2 separate regions of the Homo sapiens genome follow, and region 2 is linked to region 1. A link means that fine-mapping ties the variant in region 1 to the plasma level of a protein whose gene starts in the linked region. Region 1 holds a variant in brackets. A gene starts in the other region. All regions are shown on one strand. Distances are from middle to middle.

What was found. A credible set is the group of variants that fine-mapping cannot tell apart. PIP is the chance, under the fine-mapping model, that this variant and not a neighbour inherited with it causes the effect. The UK Biobank Pharma Proteomics Project read protein levels with antibody pairs (Olink). The fine-mapping took linkage between variants from a reference panel, not from the people measured, so its PIPs are less certain.
Region 2: it holds the start of PLA2G2A, and the variant in region 1 is the best candidate, but not a certain one, in a credible set for the plasma level of the PLA2G2A protein (UK Biobank, PIP 0.51).

Annotation. Positions count from the first base shown.
Region 1 is chr1:65,677,471-65,693,725 of GRCh38, reverse strand. No RefSeq gene overlaps it. Among named protein-coding and RNA genes, the nearest start is that of PDE4B, 110 kb to the left of the region's middle. The variant C/T (reference allele first, on the strand shown) is at 8,899.
Region 2 is chr1:19,975,679-19,983,678 of GRCh38, reverse strand. It overlaps PLA2G2A (phospholipase A2 group IIA), which reads left to right and starts at 4,061. Exons shown (of 5, transcript NM_001395463.1): 1 at 4,061-4,099; 2 at 4,800-4,945; 3 at 5,155-5,299; 4 at 5,558-5,664; 5 at 7,836-8,000. The coding sequence starts at 4,906. The coding sequence ends at 7,978. RefSeq lists an enhancer at 4,918-5,417.

The sequences.
Region 1 (16,255 bases):
CATGCAGTTGGCCCCAAGAATATCTATTCCTGCCATGGCCCAGATGTTCATGGACCCATTGCTCAAGCACTGACATGGCTAAGGATTGAAGCTGACTTGACATCTACAGGATGAGTCTTTTCATCCACCTGCTAGTTGAGAGCCACCTCAGGTACATATTAATACTGTGGATGGGAATTCAGTTATACCTTTGTGTCAATATAAGCTCTCTACATGCAAACTCACCTTTCTTTCCTGGGGAACTTTGCTGCCAGGGAATATATCAGCTAAGACTGTCAATTCATCGAAGTGTTAATGACCACAAAACTCAAAAAGGAAGAGGTCAAATATGTTCCCTTTGTTCCCAAGAAACTTAAAGACTTCTATTGACTTCTTCGCTGGAGATAAGTCATGTGCTTTCCAAGAGGTAGCCACAGCCAAGTTTCAAATAAACCCTATTATGCCTTCCTTCAATGGGTACAATCTTGACTGACATTTACATAAGTAAGAGAGACAAGTGACCCCTCCCAGAGCAATCTCTGTTCCTAACGGTGCCTTCCATCTGTACCCCTGGAGATATTAGAACTGGAAACCTTTAAATGGCGTCTTTTCTTGCATAAAATAAAGAGCCCTCAGCTAGAAGCATCCCGTTACAAGATCACCAAGGTATGATAAGCCATGCTATAGAGTGTATTTCATTCCAAGAGGAGAATCAGAACTGAACAGTTTTAAGTAGAGGAGAGACTTTGATTAGATTTTTATTTGGGGGAAAATAACTGCTGTGTGGAAGTTGATGTTTAGAACAGCATCATTGGAAGGTAAGATGCCTTTGAGGAAGCTGTTGGAAATTATAGTGGGCCAGACTAGAGTTGTGACAGTAATGATAGAAATACGTAAATTGAATGAAGAGATTTAATCTAGTGGACTTATTTGTATATGGGACATGAGGGAGAAGCAGGGGTCAACACGGACACCCAGCTTTTCAAGTTCGACAAGGATGAATGCTAGAGTTAGCCACTTACACTAGGAACACAGAGGGAGAGAAGGGTTGGTGGGAAACACAGATGATTATCAACTTTTTGGGATGCCTTGGGTATGATGCAGATCTGGATTGAAACCGGGTCTCCCTCCATCACAGTCCAGGCCCTCTAATGCAACATAGGGAGCACTCCCATGGAGATGTCCAGAGGACAGCTGGATGAATGGGCCTGGGACTGAGGAGAACTGTCTGGCTGAGACATGAATCTGTGCATCATCAGAAAATGGATAACACCTAAAGCTATGGAAACGGAGGAGCTCTTCCAGGGAAATTGCGTAGATTGGAGAAATAAAAAGGCATGTATCTGGCCCCAGGAAACACCAGAATAAAGGCGGATGAGTCTCCATAGGAGGCTAAGAAAGAGTAGCCTGAGAGGTATGGAGACCATGAGAGTCTTACTTCAGAGAAACCAAGATGACATAAGATTTAAAGGAAGAAAGCGTTGTCAACAGAGTCAAATGCTGCCAAATGAAGAAATAAGAACTGCAGCAAGGAGCCACTTTTCAGTTTAAATGCCTTCAAAGACTCGTGTTTCTTTATTGAGCAATATTCATGAGCATGATATCTGGGTCAGAGTTCACTCAGGGATACAGAACACATTATGTTTGTTAAAGAGAAGGCATTTGGTGCAAGGAATGGGTCACACGAGTGCTGGAAGGCTGGAAGAACAAGAGGGCCCACTGCAATGGCCTAGAGAACAAGAACTGCAGGAAGCAACTGCAACTCCTAGGAGTGAGGAATCCAAAAGGGAGAGATGGTGTTTCCAGAATGAAGAGCTGGGGAGAAGTTCCAGGGGCCTGGAGCTCAGACTTCTTGGAGGAAGCTCTGGAAAGCTGGTGCTCAGACCACTGAGGAAGAAGAATCCAGCCAGGGCTTGGATTACGAAGGGATTTTAAAGCCCATCTGGTGAAGGACAATAGCATGGCCTGTTCACTGACTGCCAAAGAAGGGCGACCCAGCTGCTGCTGGCAACTTAGGGACATGGAGAGGCTGGAGCCAACTGTCTGTGGCTCTAGAGAAACAAGGACAGGAATAGAAAAACAGGAAGTCCATTTCCCCCTTCTCTCACTTCTCAGCCACTTTCTAGTGCCTCACATTGGCAAAACCTAAGGAAAGCAGCTAGCAAAGGAGTTCAGGAAATGCGATTTGCAAAGTCCCAGGCCCAGTTGCCGAGAGATAACAGATTTTTAAGTGCCAGCATGTAAGACCCTATCCAATCTGCCCCATAAAACAAAGTAGCTTGAGCCATGAAATTCAGCATTACTATCCACCAGACATAAAAACATGAGCAAGTTACATGCATCTAAGCTGCTATTTCCTCTCCTATGAAACAAGAATTCAATAGTACATGTCTTCTATTGCACAACATACTCGATCCTGAAAAATCTCACATTCTACAAAATCACACTAAAAATAAAGGACTAAAGGGAAAAAAATGAAATTGAGCATATCTCTCAAAAGCTGTGAAACTTTGCAACCAGACAGAAAAACAATAGCTGGAATCTCTGGAGATAACTTGGACGATCCAGGCAGGCTGCTCAGCACAGTTGAAGGCTGCTCAGCACAGTTGAAGGCTGCTCAGCACAGTTGAAGGCTGCTCAGCACAGTTGAAGGCTGCTTCAGGGGCTATCAAAAAAGCTCAGAGTTATAGAGAGGAGATGGTATCATGTAGGCACTAAGAAAATGCAGATAGAAGTGGAGCTCTGAACCAGAGGGGCTGCAGTGAATGTAGACAGAGGGGGACATGGACCTGCCGAGAGCCAGGATCTTGCGTAAAGCTGGCTTCTCTAGAGAGGGAGCCCCATGGCAGACTCTCATTTTTAGTTTTCTTAAAATAGAGCAGTAAGGGCCCTGAGTCTAAGCCACAGTTGAGCTGAGGGCTTTCTTATTTCCTGCTGAACGTTCTGATTTTATTCCTGCTTTTCTAATTCCCCTAGCCTTGCGGGGTGGGGTGGGGAGACTATCTGAACCAACCCAACTTCATTATACTGAAATCATTCCCTTATTTTCCAATCAAGTATAAGCTAACTGTTGTTACAGAAGCATACATTGTAGCAGAACAAACCTTACCCATATTAGTGTTTCCTGAGAAGTAAACATGAAAACCCATGAAAAGTGCTAAGCAGAATACAAGGAAGAAATTTATGTTTGTGCTGTTGTTCTTATGCCCCCTGCATCTTCTTCCACTGCTTCCTCACATGCAGCCTAAACTATGTGAAGTAGCACCTGGCATGTATTCTTGCAATTTCATGCAACTGCTTGGTTGCCTCTCCTAAAATGTCTACCAGTCTCCTAGCCTCGATTTCTACCCTCAAGGTGTCTGGTTAATTCCTATTCCTTCTCTGCCTTAGCCTAAAGAAGCCTCTGACCCTCTCTGTCCTAGACTCCTAGAGAGCCTTCGTCATCCCTCTACAGCACTTACACCACTGCTGACTGTGTCTCCAACAGGAGGTGGGGCTACTGGAGCGCAAGCACTGCATCCGATTCTCATGTCTATAGCCTCAGTGTCAACTACAGTGCCTGGAACCACCAAGTTTGGCTGTTGACAACGTTATCCCACAGGGAATAGTCAATGATAACCTGGGATTAGACTGCAGAAGGGTTTATACACCTACTTTTAGAATTCAAGTATTATTTGGTCAATACCAGAGAACTCGCAAATGTTTTTAAAAAGGCAGTCAAAACTGGCCCTCGGATGAATGAATGCAGCATCTCTAGGTCAGATGGACTGGATGAGGGCAGACTGGGGGTGTGAAACCTCAGAAGGCTCATGCTGTGAGCAGAGCAGAGGTGATGGGGGTAAAACAGGGAGCCCATAGAGGGAAGGAGGGGAGAAGGGAGGGCCTCAGATGGAAGCTTCAGAACTTGGCAATTGATAAGATGGGGAGAAGACTCCACAGCAACTCTCATATTTTATGCTTAGGATTCTGGAAGAATATTCACCCTCTTTCAAAATGGGAATAGGGGAAGAAAAAGCTTATTGGGAGTGAGAACTTGAGCGTGATTTTGCTCATCTGGTATTTCACTTGGTAAGGTAGAGACCCAAGTTTTAGTCCCTCTCAGCCCAAGTTAAGCTGTTGGTTAGTAAGTCTTTTTGTTTGTTTGTTTTGTTTTTTGTGATAGAGTCTCGCTCTGTCACCCAGGCTGGAGTATAGTGGTGCGAGCTCGGCTCACTGCAACCTTCGCCTCCTAAGTTGAAGCAATTCTCCTGCCTCAGCCTCCTAAGTAGCTGGGATTATAGGTGTGTGCCACCATGCCTGGCTAATTTTTGTATTTTTACTACAGAAGAGGTTTCACCATTATAGCCAGGCTGGTCTCGAACTCCTGGCCTCAAGTGATCTGCCCACCTCAGCGTCCCAAAGCGCTAGGATTACAGGAGTGAGCCACCACTCCTGGCTGGTTAATAAGTTTTAAATGTCAGTGTGCACAAATCTTTCCAGTGGCAAGAAAAAAAAAAGCAACAACAACAAAACCACACCTCTGTGTTCCTCCTCCTTTTCTCCTTTGACTTAATACTGAACAAACAATGTCGGTTTCTAGCCACTTGCTTGTCAAAATTTTGTGTGGTGGTAGAAAGAGAGATTGGAATGAGGACAAGACAATTACCATGATAGGGGAGGACTAGGACAGAAGTAGTGGCCAGAGATGAAGGGTGATGCAGGATTAAGGATGAATAAGAACAACAGCCAGTGCCAGATCTCTGGACTCCAGCACCAGCCATATGTCATCCCAGCCAAGTGAGTGACGACATCAGAGAAGCCAAATAGCCCTGTCCTCTATCTTCAAACTGCTGGGGTGAGCGAGCTGCAAGAATAAAACAGAGCTGACCTTTCTTTTCTGTTTCCCATCTCCTGCCTTGGAGATTCTGGTCCATTCTACTTACAACCAAAAGTCCCAGATGTATACAGCCAGAGTCTCTGATTAAGAGACACTCTTTCTTTTTTTAATTTAAAAGATACTAAGTAATAAATATTCACCATTTAAAAAAAAACTATAAAATGCAGATAAGGAAAAGCACTAATCACCTTCAGATAACTACTGTTGGTATTTAGCCTTTCATCACAAATTTTATATTCTTTACATTCTTTGTATATGTGTGACTATGTGCACACATACATTATTTCTAATGTTTTTTCCAAGATTTATGGTGGAAAAATAATGATAGACTTCTAAAGTCATTAACAGATAGTTTCCTATCCTACTGCACAATTTGGTGTCTGGATGCTCTGCTGACCTTAGCAACACTTGTTTAAAGTCCCAGCATAGTAAGGTCAGCCGCCGCCTGCCTGCTGTGTCTGCAGACTTTATAATTCTGTACCTACTCCCATATTAGGGGGCTCTCTCTTGCTTAAGTCCATACGCAGAATTTCGTTAGCCAGAGGAGTCCTGAATTGCAAGTGAGAAGACCCAAATCTTGGTACTATTTTAGCTTCTAAATGTGCTCCAACTTCAGGGACTTCAGGAGCCAAGCATCTCCTGAGGGGCCTCTGGTGAAGGGAGGGGGAGAGGGAAGAGCTCTCATTTGGAAAATGCCTACTATTTCCCCGTCAGGGACTGCTGGGCCCTCCCTATCAGCCATCCATCTACTTTATTACCGAAGCAAGGGGAGGCCTCTGCCCACATCCTGTTTGAAGGCTGGAACTTCAGACCTTAGGGCACAGGTCTTTTACTCAAAACTTTTCAGATAATGAAAGAATTGAGATAAGCCAAGAATGTCAACACAAGCTCCTAGAAAACAATTGCAGATGTCACCGTAGTCACTCTGCAGGGCTGCACTGGCAAAGATCCCAGAGCACTGACCCTGTGCCCAAAGTTTCCTTCTGCCTTCTCTGAGATGACCAGCAGGTGGCAGCAGAGCACAAGGCAAAGCAGAAGGACGGTTGTCGGGAGCTCTGGAAAGACAAGAGATTGCAAACACTATACTTTTAAAAATTTGATTGATATGTTTTCTTCACTTCACAAGTAACTTAATGGGTTCAACTCCGATTGGCCACCCCATGGTTGTTTCCTGACCCCTTGGAGATTTAGAGCCTAGAAGTCTGTCCTCACCCACTGTCCATGCGAGTTTGTACAGCATGAAAAGTTCTCATCTCCAAGTTAAGAAGTAATCTTTCTATGAGAAGCACACTGTTTGACAAGCTGGTTTTGATATTTACATGCCTTCAGGCCTAGACTCCTAGTCTGCCTCTTTTACGTACTACTTCTGAGTTATTTGAAAAGTTACTAAGTCCCCTATTTTCTCAGTGGAGATTTTAAGCATCATCAGGATTTAAATGAGGATGTGTGTTTAAAAGACCAGCATGACACTTGCCACATGGAAATTCCTCAGCACATTTCAGTTATCTCACCCCTACGAAGAGAAGTGAGGCAAATAAAGAGAATCTATTATGGGGAATGCTGTCATTTCAAATAGTTATAAAGAGGTAGAGAAAATGATTCTCAAACCAGAATTTTCCTCGTTAATTCATTTTTAACTATCTTGTGAAATACAAGCAATGTCAACGCTTCGTTTTCCTAAACATTTCACTCAAATCGACTTCGTTCAATTACATGCAATAGAAATTTACCAAAGGTCTATTATGTACCAGGCATTATCACAGACACTGTAGGTCCAAATATAAGTAAGACACTGGTTGGTGCAGCTCTCTGGAAATGGACAGTACAGGTATAGCAGGAAAGCAACAGAAGTAGTAAAATCAATATAGCATGCCCAGAGAGCCCCACTCTCAAGACCCAGGCACTGGGTCTAAATGACTAAGACTGAGGCTGATTCAAGACAACAGAGAATGTCCACCATGAACTCAGAATCCAGTCACAAACAAGAGCAGCCTACCACTAAAAGAGAAGCAAATAAGTGGAGAGTCACTGTGTGTGGCTCAGCCCTGCAGGGATGGCTGAAAGTTCAGGGAGGAGCCAAAACACAGAAAACCCTAGCAAGGTAAGAGCATCAAGGTTAGATTCCATCTAACCCTCCTGACTTTCATTTTCGACACTTCATTCTTCCACTCTGAGAAACCTAGCTTTGATCATTTACAATGTGTTTATTTATTTATTTATTCATTCATTTATTTTGTTCAAGCTTAACATCCAAATTAATTAGTTTCAAAACTTCTAACCCATACTCCCATGAGAAACAAATGTATCAAGTAAATACTACCCAGCCATAAAAAAGAATGAAACTGTCATCTGCAATAACATGGATGGAAAGGGAAGTCATTATGTTAAGTGAAATAAGCCAGGCACAGAAAGATGTTCTCACATGTCCTCACTTATTTGGAGGAGCTAATAATTAAAGCAATTGAACTCATGGAGATAGAGAGTAGAATAATGATTACCAGAGGCTGGGAAGGCAGTGGGGGAGGGGAAGTGGGGATAGTTAATGGGTACAAAAAAATGCTTAGAAAGAGTGAATAAGAGGAGGTTCCAAGATGGCCAAATAGCAACAGCTCCAGTCTGCAGCTCCCAGCGTGAGCAATGCAGAAGACAGGTGATTTCTGCATTTCCAACTGAGGTACCAGGTTCATCTCACTGGGGCTTGTCAGACAGTGGGTGCAGCCCATGAGCAGGGCAGGGCATCACCTCACCTGGGAAGCACAAGGGGTCAGGGAATTCCCTTTCCTAGCAAAGGGAAGCCGTGACAAACAGTACCTGGAAAATTGGGACACTCCCACCCTAATACTGCACTTTTCCAACGGCCTTAGCAAATGGCACACCAGGAGATTATATCCCGTGCATGGTTCAGAGGGTCCCACACCCACGGAGCCTCACTCATTGCTAGCACAGCAGTCTGAGATCAAACTGCAAGGTGGCAGTGAGCCTGGGGGATGGGCATCCACCATTGCTGAGGCCTGAGTATGTAAACAAAGCGGCTGGGAAACTCAAACTGGGTGGAGCCCACCGCTGCTCAAGGAGGCCTGCCTGCCTCTGTAGACTCCACCTCTGAGGGAAGGGCATAGCTGAACAAAAGGCAGCAGAAACTTCTGCAGACTTAAACGTCCCTGTCTGACAGCTTTGAAGAGAGCAGTGCTTCTCCCAGCACAGAGTTTGAGATCTGAGAACAGACAGACTGCCTCCTCAAGTGGGTCCCTGACCCCCAAGTAGCCTAACTGGGAGACACCTCCCAGTAGGGGCCGACTGACACCTCATACAGCCAGATGCCCCTCTGAGATGAAGCTACCAGAAGAAGGATCACACAGCAACATTTACTGTTCTGCAATATTTGCTGTTCTTCAGTCTCCACCGGTGATACCCAGGCAAACAGGGTCTGGAGTGGACCTCCAGCAAACTCCAACAGACCTGCAGCTGAGAGTCCTAACTGTTAGAAAGAAAACTAACAAACAGAAAGGACATCCACACCAAAACCCCATCTGTATGTCACCATCATCAAAAACCACAAAGATGGGGAGAAACCAGAGCAGAAAAGCTGAAAATTCTAAAAATCAGAGTGCCTCTTTTCCTCCAAAGGAACACAGCTCCTCGCCAGCAATGGAACAAAGCTGGATGGAGAATGACTTTGACGAGTTGAGAGAAGAAGGCTTCAGACGATCGGTAATAACAAACTTCTCCGAGCTAAAGGAGAATGTTCAAACCCATCACAAAGAAGCTAAAAACCTTGAAAAAAGATTAGATGAATGGCTAACTAGAATAAACAGTGTAGAGAAGACCTTAAATGACCTGATGGAGCTGAAAACCATGGCACGAGAACCACATGACGCATGCACAAGCTTCAATAGCCGATTTGATCAAGTGGAAGAAGGGTATCAGTGATTGAAAATCAAATGAATGAAATGAAGTGAGAAGAGAAGTTTAGAGGAAAAAGAGTAAAAAGAAACAAACAAACCCTCCAAGAAATATGGGACTACGTGAAAAGACCAAATCTA[C/T]GTCTGATTTGTGTACCCGAAAGTGACAGGGAGAATGGAACCAAGTTGGAAAACACTCTTCAGAATATTATCCAGGAAAACTTTCCCAACCTAGCAAGCAGGCCAACATTCAAATTCCGGAAATACAGAGAACGCCACAAAGATACTCCTTGAGAAGAGCAACTCCAAGACACATAATTGTCAGATTCACTAAAGTTGAAATGAAGGAAAAAATGTTAAGGGCAGCCAGAGAGAAAGGTCAGGTTACCCACAAAGGGAAGCCCATCAGACTAACAGTGGATCTCTCAGCAGAAACTCTACAAGCCAGAAGAGAGTGGGGGCCAATACTCAACATTCTTAAAGAAAAGAATTTTCAACCCAGAATTTCATATCCAGCCAAACTAAGCTTCATAAGTGAAGGAAAAATAAAATCCTTTACACAAGCAAATGCTGAGAGATTTTGTCACCACCAGGCCTGCCTTACAAGAGCTCCTCAAGGAAGCACTAAACATGGAAAGGAACAACTGATACCAGCCACTGCAAAACATGCCAAATTATAAAGACCATCGAGGCTAGGAAGAAACTGCATCAACTAATGAGCAAAATAACCAGCTAACATCATAATGACAGGATCAGATTCACACATAACAATATTAACCTTAAATGTAAATGGGCTAAATGCTCCAATTAAAAGACACAGTTAAAAGACTGGCAAATTGGATAAAGAGTCAAGACCCATCAGCCTGCTGTACTCAGGAAACCCATCTCACGTGCAGAGACACACATAGGCTCAAAATAAAGAGATGGAGGAAGATCTACCAAGCAAATGGAAAGCAAAAAAAAAAAGCAGAGGCTGCAATTTTAGTCTCTGATAAAACAGACTTTAAACCAACAAAGATCAAAAGAGACAAAGAAAGTCATTACATAATTGAAAAGGGATCAATTCAACAAGAAGAGCTAACTATCCTAAATATATATGCACTCAACACAGGAGCACCCAGATTCATAAAGCTAGTCCTTAGAGACTTACAAAGAGACGTAGACTTCCACACTATAATAATGGGAGACTTTAACACCCCACTGTCAACATTAGACAGATCAACAAGACAGAAAGTTAACAAGGATATCCAGAAATTAAACTCAGCTCTGCACCAATCGGAGCTAATAGACATCTACAGAACTCTCCACCCCAAATCAACAGAATATACATTCTTCTCAGCACCATACCACAATAATTAATAGCCTACCAACCAAAAAACATCCAGGACCAAATGGATTCACAGCCGAATTCTACCAGAGGTACAAACAGGAGCTGGTACCATTCCTTCTGAAACTATTCCAATCAATAGAAAAAGAGGGAATCCTCCCTAATTCATTTTATGAGGCCAACATCATCCTGATACCAAAGCCTGGCAGAGACACAACAAGAAAAGAGAATTTTAAATCAATACCCCTGATGAACACTGATGCAAAAATCCTCAATAAAATACTGGCAAACTGAATCCAGCAGCACATCAAAAAGCTTATCCACCACGATCAAGTTGGCTTCATCCCTGGGATGCAAGGCTGGTTCAACAAACGCAAATCAATAAAGGTAATCCATTATATAAACAGAACCAAAGACAAAAACCACATGATTATCTCAATACATTCAGAAAAGGCCTTCAACAAAATTCAACAGCCATTCATGCTAAAAACTCTCAATAAATTAGGTATTGATGGGACATATCTCAAAATAATAAGAGCTATTTATGACAAACCCACAGCCAATATCATACTGAATGGGCACAAACTGGAAGCATTTCCTTTGAAAACTGGCACAAGACAGGGATGCCCTCTCTCACCACTCCTATTCAACATAGTGTTGGAAGTTCTGGCCAGGGCAATCAGGCAAGAGAAAGAAATAAAGGGTTTTCAATTAGGAAAAGAGAAAGTCAAATTGTCCCTGTTTGCAGATGACATGATTGTATTTTTAGAAAACCCCATCATCTCAGCCCAAAATCTCCTTAAGCTGATAAGCAACTTCAGCAAAGTCTCAGGATACAAAATCAATGTGCAAAAATCATAAGCATTCTTATACACCAATAACAGACAAACAGCCAAATCATGAGTGAACTCCCATTCACAATTGCTTCAAAGACAATAAAATACCTAGGAATCCAACTTACAAGGGATGTGAAGGACCTCTTCAAGGAGAACTATAAACCACTGCTCAACGAAATAAAAGAGGACACAAACAAATGGAAGAACATTCCATGCTCATGGATAGGAAGAATCGATATTGTGAAAATGGCCATACTGCCCAAGGTAATTTATAGATTCAATGCCATCCCCATCAAGCTACCAATGACTTTCTTCACAGAATTGGAAAAAACTACTTTAAAGTTCATATGGAACCAAAAAAGAGCCCGCATTTCCAAGACAAAGCATTTTCATAACAGGAGTCTCATCTAATTCTCTTAACCTATGAAGCATATGATTGTTCGTCATATTTTAAAGGCGGGCAAATGAAGCTCACAAAGGACAAATGGTTCGCCCAAGGTCAGATAAATAATAATGTGATTCAGGAAAGACTCAAATGAAGACATAAATTCCAAGTTCAGTGTTTCTTCCACTTTTATGGCCTCTAATAAGATGAGTTCATTTGTGTCTTAAAGGCATATTGGTCTTCAACATCTCCTATTACATTTCAAACCTTCCTGTTATCTGTTGAATTATTAAATTGCTTTTTTAATCTTTATTTTAAAACATGTTTGTGTTCACACACATATATACATATAAAATATAAAAACATGTAAAGCATTAAGAGTTATTCATCATTCTATGAATTGATCCCTTTACACACACACACACGCATATTTTTCAAATAGTTGCCATAAACAAGAAAATTCTATTTAAAATCTTTTTAAATGTACCCTTACATTATAAATCTTTTACTATGCAGCTATGCGACATTAATAATGGTTATTAACTGCATAATATTCCATTATGTCTTCACCATAATTACTTAACCATTTGCATATTATGTAGACATTGAGATTACATCCAGGTTCATATTAGAGAATATGCTGTTGAGAAAAAAAGTTCTTACACTTCTATGAGAAGACTAGTTATTTGCTAGCTATTATAATAAGTAACTACCCAGCTGAGTTTAAATTTACGTAATCAATCAATGACAATTCATTTCAATAAACATGTTTCTGAAACCTAGTCAATCAATGACAGCTCAGAATTCTGAAAGTCAGCCAATTGGAAACAGCTTCACTTTAATAATTGCATTTTTAAAGTCAGCAACAGATGCACACTGGTAACCATGTTCCTAAAACTAAGGGTCAGCCAATCACTAAACAGTGATTATTACACATTGTATGCATGTAGCAAAATATCCCAAATACCCCATAAATATATACACCTACTATATAGCCAGAAAAATTAAAAATTTAAAAAAAACAAATTTCTCAAGTACAGTGTTTATATACAGTTCTTTTGTCTTGAGTCTTACAGCATCCATTCAGTTTAAACCCTGACTTCCCCACCTCCCTCCGTATCGGTTATGTGATTCATTCATAGTACATTCTGAGCCGCTTTGTCACACACAGCCGGCTTTCCATATTGTTCCCATATCCTGGCTGAGATTTTTAACTTACATGCAGTAAAATTCACTTTTATGGCATACAGTTTGATGGGTTTTGACACATGCATAGCGTCACGATTCTATAGAGAACATTTCCATCACACATCCACCTCCTCTTGAATTCCCCATGCTTCCTTTTTATACAAAACCCCTTCCCCTCACCCCCAACCCCTGCTCCTGCTGATGTGTTTTTCTCCCTATAGGTCTGCTCGTGGAATCAAACAACACATAGTCTTTGGGTTTTAAGATTCATCCATGTTGTTGGGGAATCAATAGCTTGTCCCTTGATATTGCTGAGTTATCTCCTATTATATAGATGTATCACAGTTTTTTTATTCATTCTCCAGCTGAAAGATATCTGGATTGTTTCCATGTTCTGACAATTACAATTACAATTTGACAATGACAATTACAATTATAAAGTGGCTATGAAGATTTGTGTACATATTTTTATGTGACCATAAATTTTTATCTCCCTTAAATGGGTACCTATGAGTGAAATTGTTGGACCACTTGATGGTCCACCATATGTGTTCAACTTTATAAGAAACTGCCAAACTGTTTTCTAAAGTAGTCAAATCCTTTTTTATCGTGACGAATAATGTTGGAGAGCTCCACTGGTTCCACAACCTCTCCAGCACATGATATTCAGAGATAACTGTAAACAGTCTTATAGATGCATACTGGTATCTTATTTTATTTCCCCTAATTTTTAGTGATTCTGAGCCCATTTTCATATACTTATTTTCCATCCAAAATTCCTTCTTTGGTGAAGGTTCAGACGTTCTGTCCATTTCGTAAAATTAGGTTGTTGTCTTATTGTTGAGTTTTAAATATTCCCTATATTCCGAATGCAGCTTTTAGTCAGAAATGTGATTAGCAAATATTTTCCCCCAATCTATGCCTTCTATTTTTCAAATATTTAATAGTGTCTTTCTCAGAGCAAAATGTTACATTTTAATATAAAGTCCAGTTTATCGAATTTTTTTCTTTTACATAAGCTTTTGGTGTCATGTCTACAAATTCTTTGCCTAACCCACATCGTGAAAGTTTTCTCTTAGGGAATTTTCTATTATAGAAGTGTTATGATTTTAGATTTTGCATTTAGTCTATTAATCATTTTTGATTCACATTTTTATGCAGCGTAAGGTGCAGACTAAGACTCTTTTTTGTTTTCACATGTATGCCCAATTTTTCAGCACCACTTACTGGGATTACAGGCGTGAGCCACTGCACGCAGTCCATTGCTTGATTTATGATGTTGAACCAGTCATATATTCCTGCAATAAACCCCACTTGGTTGGGATATATTATCCTTTTTATGTTTTGCTGGATTTGATTTGTTAATGTTTTCTTGAAGATTTTTATCTTCAACTGTTTATATCTGCAGTTTTCTTTCTTATAATATCTTTGTCTAGTCTTGGTATTGAGACATCCAATACTAATAAAATGAATTGAAAAGTGTATTCTCTGTTTTTACTCTGGAAGAGATTATGCAGAGCAATCAGGCAAGAGAAAGAAATAAGGGGCATCCAAATTGGAAAAGAAGAAGTCAAAGGATCTCTGTTTGCCAATGATTTGATTGTACACCTAGAAAACTCCTCCAAAAGACTCCTAGATTTGATCAATGAATTCAGTAAAGTCTCAGATTATAAAATCAATGCACACAAATCAGTAGCACTGCTATACACTAAGAATGTCCAAGCTGAGACTCACATCAAGAACTCAATTTCTTTTACAATAGCCGCAAAAAAAATAAAATATCTAGGAATATACTTAACCAAAGAGATTAAAAATCTCTACAAGGAGAACTACAAAATACTGCTGAAAGAAATCATAGATGACACAAACAAACAGAAAAACATCCCATGCTCATGGATTGGAAGAATCAATATCATGAAAATGACGATACTGCTCAAAGCAATCTACAGATTCAGTGCAATTCCTATCAAAAAGACACCTGCATATGTATGTTTATCACAGCGCAATTCCCAACTGCATAGATATAGAACCAGCATAAGTGCTCATCAACTGATGAGTGGATAAAGAAACTGTGGTATAAATACACCATGGAATACTACTCAACCATTAAAAAAGAATAAAATAATGCCTTTAGCAGCAACTTGGATGGAGCTGGAGGCCATTATTCTACATGAAGTAACTCAGGAATGGAAAACCAAATACTATATATTGTCACTTACGAATGGGAGCTAAGCTATGGGTGCACAAGTGCATGCAGAGTGGTACAATGGACTTTGGAGACTCAGAATAGGAGAGGATGGGAAGAAGATGAGGGATAAAGAAAACTACATATTGGGTACAATGTACCAATTTGGGTGATGAGTGCACTAAAATCTCAGACTTCACCCTTATGCAATTTATCCATGTCACCAAAAAACACCTGTACCCCCAAAAGTATTGAAATTTTTAAAAAGAAAAAAAAGAAGCTGTGAATTTCTTCCACGGATCCTCATATTAGATGCCTGTCTACTCAGTAAACTAAAAATATTTCTTCCTATATATGTCAAGCCACACCTATCTACTTAATTTTTGGAGACTGTGATCAATTAGCCGTAACCACAGATATCTATGTTTAAATAATCTGGCAATCTTGTTTTCCCTATCATGTAATCAGATATGATATTATAAAAGATGAAAGTATGTTTCTTGGTTGAAAGTCTGAGATTGAGCCCAGTCATGGGCTGGGACATGGCAACAATCTGAGGATTATTAGAGATACCCACCATCTGTGTTTGTTCAAGGGAAAGGTTGTATAATTGTGGTAAGGCTTAAGATTTATATTGTAGTGCCCATTTCAATAAAACAGTGCAAGGTTATTGGTATGGTTTGAATGTGTCTCCCAAAAATCATGTGTTGGAAAGTCAACCCCCAATACCACAGTGTTAAGAGGTGAAATCTTTAAGAAGTGTTAGGCCATGAGGGCTCTGCCCTCATTAAGAGATTCATACCATTATCCCAGGAGTAAGTTCCTTATAAGAGGATGAGTTTGGCCCTCACTTGCTCTCTCTCTTTCTCCTATGTGATGCCCTCCACCATGTTATGATGCAGCAAGAAGGCTCTCACCAGATGCCAGGCCCTCAATCTTGGACTCTCAGCCTCTGGAACCATGAGCCAGTTTGTGACATAAATTACCCAGTCCGAGATATTCTGTTACAGCAGCACAAAATGGACTCAGACAGTTATACTTTAACATATAGAGAAATGTCTTCTTGTGAGTTTGTCAACATTTTTATTATTGTTTAATATGCCCAGGTTACCCACCTGCTGACTAATTTATTTGCTTAAGAATACATCCTGTACCTCACTCTGTGCTTCTAGGCTCCATTTCTTTCTTGACTAAATCATTTGTTGGTTCTTTCAACAAGGTTCTATCAGTGGTGGATTCAGGTGCATTGTTAGTTTATCTCACTATTTTACAGATATTGTTCTATTGCCTTCTAGTTTCTATTCTTGCTTTTGAGAAGCCTACTTAGAGTTTATTTTTTCTTCCTTTGTAAGTTGTCTTTTTTCTCTGCTTTTGAAAAATATCTTTTCTTTATGGTTGTAGTTTGGAAGTTTCATCATCTGTCTAGGTGTGGATTTAGTTTTATTCACAACCTGGGCTTATGATTGCTGGGTCTTTAGGTTAATATTTTTCATCAATTCTGAAACATTGTCTCTCAGAAGACTCTTTGCCTACTATCTTTCCCTCATCTTCTTCATTATCTCTCTTTAGAGTTCCAG
Region 2 (8,000 bases), 46 Mb after region 1:
TGAACCATCTCAAAGTATCTCCCCACAACATATTTATTAATTACAAAAGGAAAAATAGTAACTTTACAGTGGAGAAACCCGTCAGACACCATCTTAACCAGTGATCAAAATTAACATGAGTAGTAGTGAGATATACCAATATCATCGAGAAGGACACCATATCACTTTGTAACATTCTTGCTAAAAATACATAACCTCAATCTGATCATGAGAGTGTATCGGACAAACCCAAAATGGATGACATTCTACAAAAGCTTGACCAGTACTATCTAACAGTATCACAGTCATAAAAGGCCAAGAAAAGTATGGAGATGTCACAGATTAGCAAAAACTAAGGAGATATGAAAACTACATGCAATGTGAGAGCCTGGAAGAAAAAAGACATGAGTAGGAAAACTGGTGAAATTAAAATAATGCCTGTAGATTAGTTAATAACATGAATTTCCTGGTTTCCATGATTGTACAATGGCTATGGAAGATGTTAACATTAGGGAACCTGGGTGAAGGGCATTTTTTCTGTAAGTAAAAATTCCACTTTTGCAATTTTTTTCTGTAAGTAAAAATTTATCTCAAAAAAATTTTTAATGTATGTTCACAAAGGAACATTAGGAAACAGTAGCAGAAAAATTTCAACCGTAATCCTGCAATTAAAAACAACTGCTGGCCAGGCTTGGTGGCTCACGCCTGTAATCCCAGCACTTTGGGAGTCCCAGGTGGGCAGATCATGAGGTCAGGAGATCGAGACCATCCTGGCCCACATGGTGAAACCCCGCCTCTACTAAAAATTCAAAAATTAGCTGGGCGTGGTGGCACATGCCTGTAGTCCCAGCTACTCCGGAGGCTGAGGCAGGAGAATCTCTTGAACCTGGGAGGCGGAGGTTGCAGTGAGCCGAGATCTCACAACTGCACTCCAGCCTGGCGACAAAGCGAGACTCCGTCTCAAAAAAAAAAAAAAAACGAAAACAACAACAACAAAAAAAACCTGCTTATGCAGATATTGATTTGGCAAAAGAAAAAAACTTGTCAATATGCTGATTCTTTTAGTTATTAATAATGCAAGGAAAGTGTTCTGAGCACTGACTAAGCTCAAAGCACCTCTCTTTGAGCACTCCAATCTTATGTAAAATTGCCATCCTCCTACTCCAGATACCCCTCCTCCATCCCTACTGTAAGAATTAAGGAAAGAGGAAAGAAACATGAAAGCTGGCTTGGCAGTCAAGGACAGGTTTATTTTAGAGAGGGGCAGCTGTCTGAGTTAGGTCAGAGGCACACACTTACAGACTAAGAGTTTTTAAGGATTCAGGGTGGGAGAGTTTAACAGAGGCTTGGACTGCTTCTGTGTCTTTTTGTTGTGCCTATCTGGAAGGGAGAGTTTCTGTGTCTGTTCCCATACATCTTTCTGCAGCCTCAGGCATACTCCCCAAGTCTGCTTTTAGCTTTCCTATCTTAGTGCACCTGAAGGGAAAAGAATGTGCTTATTAAGGCTCACTGTTTTACTGGGGCCCATTTTATGAGGGTGAAGTTTGGCAGTTGCCAGAGAAACTTTCCGAACACCTCCCTCTCTGCCCGAGCTGTCTTATCTGTGTTTTATCTGTGTTTTATCTGTGTTTTACTGTCTACTCTTTCTGGCTGTTTGTAGTGAGAAGAGAAATGATTTCCTTGAAATGCATGAGGCTAGAAAGGGAGCTGGAACTTAAAGTGGTGGTGTTTGTCCGAGATGACGGTGCTCCTGCCCTGTCACCTACTGCCTCTCTCCCCATTGCAGTGTCACCACCTATCACATGATGTCATTTACTAGTATGTCTTTTGCTGATTGTCTGTCTCTTTCTGCTTAAGCGGAAGCCCTGTGAAAGTAGAGGTTTCTGTTTGGCTTACTGAGTCCAAGGGCTTGGATTAGGTCTGGGATGGAAGATGAACAAGAGGCCAATTCATGGACTTTGAATTCCTGTAAAACAGCCTGAAATGATGGGAAAAGGAGAGGCTCTATCCGACGTCACCAGAGTCCTTGAGCGTTGGAGTATTTCTTTCAACTGAAGCCTGGACCAGGGCTATCCAGATATACAGAGAGGGAGGCGGTTCTGCCTATTGGAGGAACTACTGTTTCCGAAAGTGCAATGTTTAACAAAGGCAGTGGTCTACCCCGGGGGGTTGAGACCTCTGAACCCTGACGTGGCCATAAAGCCAACTGCTATAGGACTGGCAACCCAGAATAAGAAGAGTGAAGGAAGCCAACAGAGATCCCTGGAGGTTGTGTTAGTTTGCTTCGGCTTTGTATTAGGTACTTTGTGGCTTACACAACAGACATTTTATTGTCTAACAGTTCCAGTGGCAGAAATCAAAGGGCCCAACAGGGTTGATTCCTTCTGAGGGCTGTGAGGGAGAATCTGCTCCATCCCTCTCTCCTAGCTTCCAGTGTTTTCTGGTAATCTTTGCCATTCCTTGGCTTGTAGAAGCTTCACCCTGATCTCTGCCTTCATCTTTGTATGGCCTTCTCCCAGTGTGCCTGCCTGTCTCCAAATTTCCCATTTTTGTAATGACATCTGTCATCTTGGATTAGGGCCCATCCTAGCTGCCCTAGTGATCTCCTCTTAACTAATTATATCTGCAATGACCCTATTTTTAAATAAGATCACATTCTAAGGTACCGGGACTCCAACACAGGAACTGAGAGCAGGAAGGAGGACCACAGTCCAACCCCTTACACAGTCGAGCACTGGAGGTAAATGGTATTCTCGAGAGGAAAGCTGTTTGATGGCTCTTGGGATAGATTAGGTTATGCTCCAGCAACTGCCCATCTCAATTATCATCAGCTTAATACAACAAAAGTCTATTTCTCACTCACACTAAGACCCCTGTGAGCTGCAGGACTTTCTAGGACAACTGTCTTCCGTGCCATGATTCTTACACCCCAGATTGCTTTCATCTTCTGGTTCTACCAGTGGGGCAGGGAAGGGCTGGGGAGTTGCATCTCATAGTCCCCTTGCTGGAGAAACCTGGAAGTGACCCTTCATACCAGTGCTCATGTTTTACCAGTCAGCAGCAGGGCCCTAGGTCTCCATCCCTGCAAGGGGCTCTAGAGTGTAGGGAACAGATGGAATGTTCACAAGCACCACAGCCCCTGCCACAGTGACTTTTTTAGGACTGGTATCGCAGAGTGTTTACTTAAGGCGGTGGAAGCTAAATTCTTAGCATGTGCTGGAGAGCAATGAAAAAGATATTTACTTTATGAATTAAAGCTGGAGTCAGTGTCAGCCCGAAGGCTGAAGGAAAAAGAGCAACAGATCCAGGGAGCATTCACCTGCCCTGTCTCCAAACAGGTGAGGATGGGGAATAAAGTGAAGGCAGTGCTTTGGTGGGAACTTCAAGGATAGCCTCTGGCTTTTTCCAGGTTTAGAAGCTCATATGAGACAGGGGTGGAGGAAAAGAAGAAAGAAGAATAAGAAGAGAAAGTTGAGGCCCTGGCCCAAGTTAGTGGGAAGGGAAATCCACCCCCATTAAACTCTCTCCCTGGTGGACTGTGGGGTGCACACGTGAGGCCTGCACAGGTGCTGGAACATGGTAGAGGCCCAGGACATACTTCCTGTGAATGAATGATTGAGCGGCTGAATGAATGAGTACCACTAAAAGCCCTCTTTTCTATTCCCAAATGCCACATTGAGCAGAAGGGAGCAATCCTTGCTCAGCAATTGGTAGTCCCTTTGGGTGTGCAAATGAGTCCACAGCCTGCAACAGCAGACAGTCTCTGCCCCCCTTAGAGGCGATTGCAGGGAGGTGGCTGACCGTTGATCACACCCAGAGCTGGTTATGGGAATTTACTCCATGGAAAGACTGCAAAACTGCCTGAAATGTGTTTTGGCATCAGCTACTGACACGTAAGGTTTCCCAATCCTCAACTCTGTCCTGCCAGCTGATGAGGGGAAGGAAAGGGATTACCTAGGGGTATGGGCGACCAATCCTGAGTCCACCAACTGACCACGCCCATCCCCAGCCTTGTGCCTCACCTACCCCCAACCTCCCAGAGGGAGCAGCTATTTAAGGGGAGCAGGAGTGCAGAACAAACAAGACGGCCTGGGGATACAACTCTGGAGTCCTCTGAGAGGTAAAGAGCCAGCGAAGCTGATGTCCTGTCAAGAGCAGAATTCCTGCTCATTCGCTGCCTTTGAGAGTGGCTGTGTTGTGCATGCATGTGCATGATTTGATATGTATGAGAGGGTGTGTGTGCATGAGTGTGTTGAGTGAGTATGTGAGTGTAGTGTAAGAGAGGATGTTGGCACTATCAGGTAAGTACGAGAGTGTGTGTATGTGGGCATAGGTGTGTTAACATGTATGTGTTTGGGAACTTGTGTATGTGGAAGGGGTTAGAAGGCCTAGAAGAGAGAGGTTGATGCTTTCATTCTGGAGGAAAATACTGAGGCCGAGCCTCCATGGGTGCCTTGGAGACTCCAAGCCTTGAATCCAGTGTGGGGATATGCAAGCTATGTCTAGCGAGGGACACATCCTCTGACCTCAGGAACCTCCCAGGTAGTTGGGAGGAACCTGGTTCCAACCTCCCAAGAACTCTCAGTCTGATGAGGTACAGGGGAGGTCTCATTAGTGTATCATGGGGTTCTCCACAGGTCTGAGGGCCTGATGTGTGTGAAACCATTCTGCAGAGCTGGGAACGGGTCAGGAGGTGGTTGTGTGTGTGTGTGTGTGTGTGTGTGTGCATTGCTGGAGGGCACTCCTTGTGTGCTCTGAGTGTGACAGAGGAAGTCACCCTGGACTTAGGTTGGATGGGAGAGCATGTCTGTGTGTCTCAGAGCCACCAAGGAGGAGCAGGGGAGCGACGGCCGGGGCAGAAGTTGAGACCACCCAGCAGAGGAGCTAGGCCAGTCCATCTGCATTTGTCACCCAAGAACTCTTACCATGAAGACCCTCCTACTGTTGGCAGTGATCATGATCTTTGGTAAGAGCTGACCCTGACCTCTGAGCATGGGGGGACAGCCCCAGAAGGGAAGCACTCTTGTCCCTTAGTTTTCTCTCCCATTGCAGTGATCCTCTCTCAGGGGGAAAAAAGAAGCCATTTGGGAGGAAGGAGAGTAGCAGAGAGGGGCAGAGAGGGAGGGCGCAGAACCCCATGCCCCATCACCAGACAACTCCCAAATTTCCTTCCAGGCCTACTGCAGGCCCATGGGAATTTGGTGAATTTCCACAGAATGATCAAGTTGACGACAGGAAAGGAAGCCGCACTCAGTTATGGCTTCTACGGCTGCCACTGTGGCGTGGGTGGCAGAGGATCCCCCAAGGATGCAACGGATCGGTGAGGCCACCTATCCCTCCCTACCCTCCTAGACTCTGGCCCAGGCAGGGCTGGGAGCTGCAAAGACAGTGCCGGTTCCTGATGGGCGCAGAGGTCTCAGGATGGCCTGGCTGGAAAAGCAGCCGGCATGTTGGAACTTCTGCTCTAGACTGTTGCAAAGTCACTGGGTCTCTGCCCAGGGTCCAAGGGGGTGAGACCACAGGCACCAGGCCTCCTGGAGCTGTGGGACAAGAGCCCCAACAGGGTGTCTCCTCACAGCTGCTGTGTCACTCATGACTGTTGCTACAAACGTCTGGAGAAACGTGGATGTGGCACCAAATTTCTGAGCTACAAGTTTAGCAACTCGGGGAGCAGAATCACCTGTGGTAAGAGTCCTACCTCACCATCGAGTGGCCCTCATTTGTTTAGACAGTGCTGGGGACTGTGCTGGGCACCAAAGATAGACACAGAGGGACACAGTTCCTGCTTCAGGAAGCTCACGGTTGAGTGGGAAGCCAGGAAAGTGAAAATCCAATGTAGTAAAGACTCCAGTGGGAAGTAAACAAACAGATAAGGCATTAACACAGCCTGAGGCTTGAGGAAGGCTCCTGGAAGGGGTGACCCCTAAGCTGAGTCTGAAAGGCTGTGCAGAGAGTCAGGGAAGAGGAGGGAGCATTCCCAGAAGAGGACACAGCATGGTCAAAGGCACTAAAGGGCACTGTAAGCCATTCTGTACTGCCCAGCAGAAACATGAGGAAGAGGAGCAGTGCTGAGCCATGATGCTGGAGACATAGGAAGGAGCTAGGTCAATCCGGCCCTCCAGGCCGGGCTGTATTTAGGTTTTGCCCTAAAGCAATAGGATGCTATTAAGCAAAGGAGCTACAGGGTCAGATTTGCATTTTAGATGACTCACTGTGGGGACAGGGTCGATGGAGACAAGTGGAAGGGGGGCAGAGAAAGCTATTGCCATCATGCAGGCAAGAGGGAGTAACATCTTGACATAAAACAATGGAGGTCAGGATGGGAAAGGTGGAGAAAAAATCAAGATGCATTTGAGATGGAATCAGCTGAACTGGTGACTGAGTTGGGAGGGATGGGGAGAGGGAGTTGTTGGATGGATATGTGGCTGCATGGATGGCACAACTGTGATAAAGACCATGGGAGCAGGTCATGGTGGAGGGTGGGGAGGAGCAGTTCTATTTCCAGCATGTTGAGTTTAGGGGCCTCCAGCACCCAGGGAGGGGTCCAGCAGGCAGCTGTCTATACAAATGCAGCTCAGGGGAGAATTCAGGACTGGGACACAGATTCAGAAGCCAGCAGCAGAGACCTGAGAGGTGGGTGTGATCACTCATTTGCTGTTTAAAGGCCCAGAAAGGAGACAGAGAAGGGATGGACAGAGAGGGAGAAGGGGAACTGAGCGAGAAGGTCAAGGAGTCAGTAAGGAAATGGTTAGCAAGGGCCAAGTGAACAGGGAGTCCTCCATGAAAAGGGCCAACAAGGCTCCCCTGGATGTTGAGGCAGAAACGCATGAGGGACTCAGGGGAAGCTGTTTCCATGGAGTCGGGAGGGCAAAGCCAGATTAGACCAGGTGGGGGCTGATGGGAAGGCAAATAAAGACAGGAGGCAAAGACAACATTCTGGAGAAAGTTTGGCCCTGAAGGGGAGGAGAGGTGGGTGGCACTGGAAGGCTTTGCTTGGTGTCCCCAGACAGCTGACTCATGAGTGGGATTTGGAAAAAGCGTGGACTCCTGCCCATGGCCTGAGTCCTTTAAGATCAGAAATTATGTCTCCCATCATGGCCTCTCCATAGAGGCATGTATCTTCAGCAGGCGTTAGGTCACAAGCCACATGATGCCAAGCTGACAGTGGCTTGCATAATGGGGATATGTGACTGTCGCATAACTAGAATTCTGGAAGAGTGCAGTGCCAGGCTTGGGGCAGCTTTCCAGCCATGTCATTAAGAATCCAGCCTTCTCCTGGCCTTCAGCTATGCCACGTGGCCAGTGTCTACACCTGGGATGTCAAGAGACAGGCTGCAGGTCCACCCTCCTGGCCTCATACTATGGAAGAGGCTTTCCTTTTGGGCATCTCTCTTTTTGGAGGGAGGAAATAGATCGTTCCCAGAAGCCCCCAGCAGACTTCCCCTTGTTGCTCATTGGTTGGAACAAGGTTACATGATACACAAAGACCAATCACTGCAAAGGAAAAAGGGATGACCCTGCCTGGCTTACACCAATCACAATCTATTCCCAGACCCCCGAGGCTAGGGCTTTGCCTCCTGGACACATCTGTTAGCAAGAGGAAGAGATTATGGCTGTTAGGAAGGCCTTTGAGAAAGTATCCCAGTGCCTGGCTGTGTCTCCACCAGGCTGGAGGCCAGCATCCCAAGGGCAAGAATTCTGTCTCCCCATTGGTCAGAAATATCTGGAGCGCAGGTGTTTGTCTCCAACTAGGAGCTTCTGGAGGACAGGGCTGTGTCTTCTACCCCAGGGTTCCCACAAGAAGCCACTGAATATTAATAAACTCCCATCTTGTGTTTATTTTCTTATGATTTCAGCAAAACAGGACTCCTGCAGAAGTCAACTGTGTGAGTGTGATAAGGCTGCTGCCACCTGTTTTGCTAGAAACAAGACGACCTACAATAAAAAGTACCAGTACTATTCCAATAAACACTGCAGAGGGAGCACCCCTCGTTGCTGAGTCCCCTCTTCCCTGGAAACCT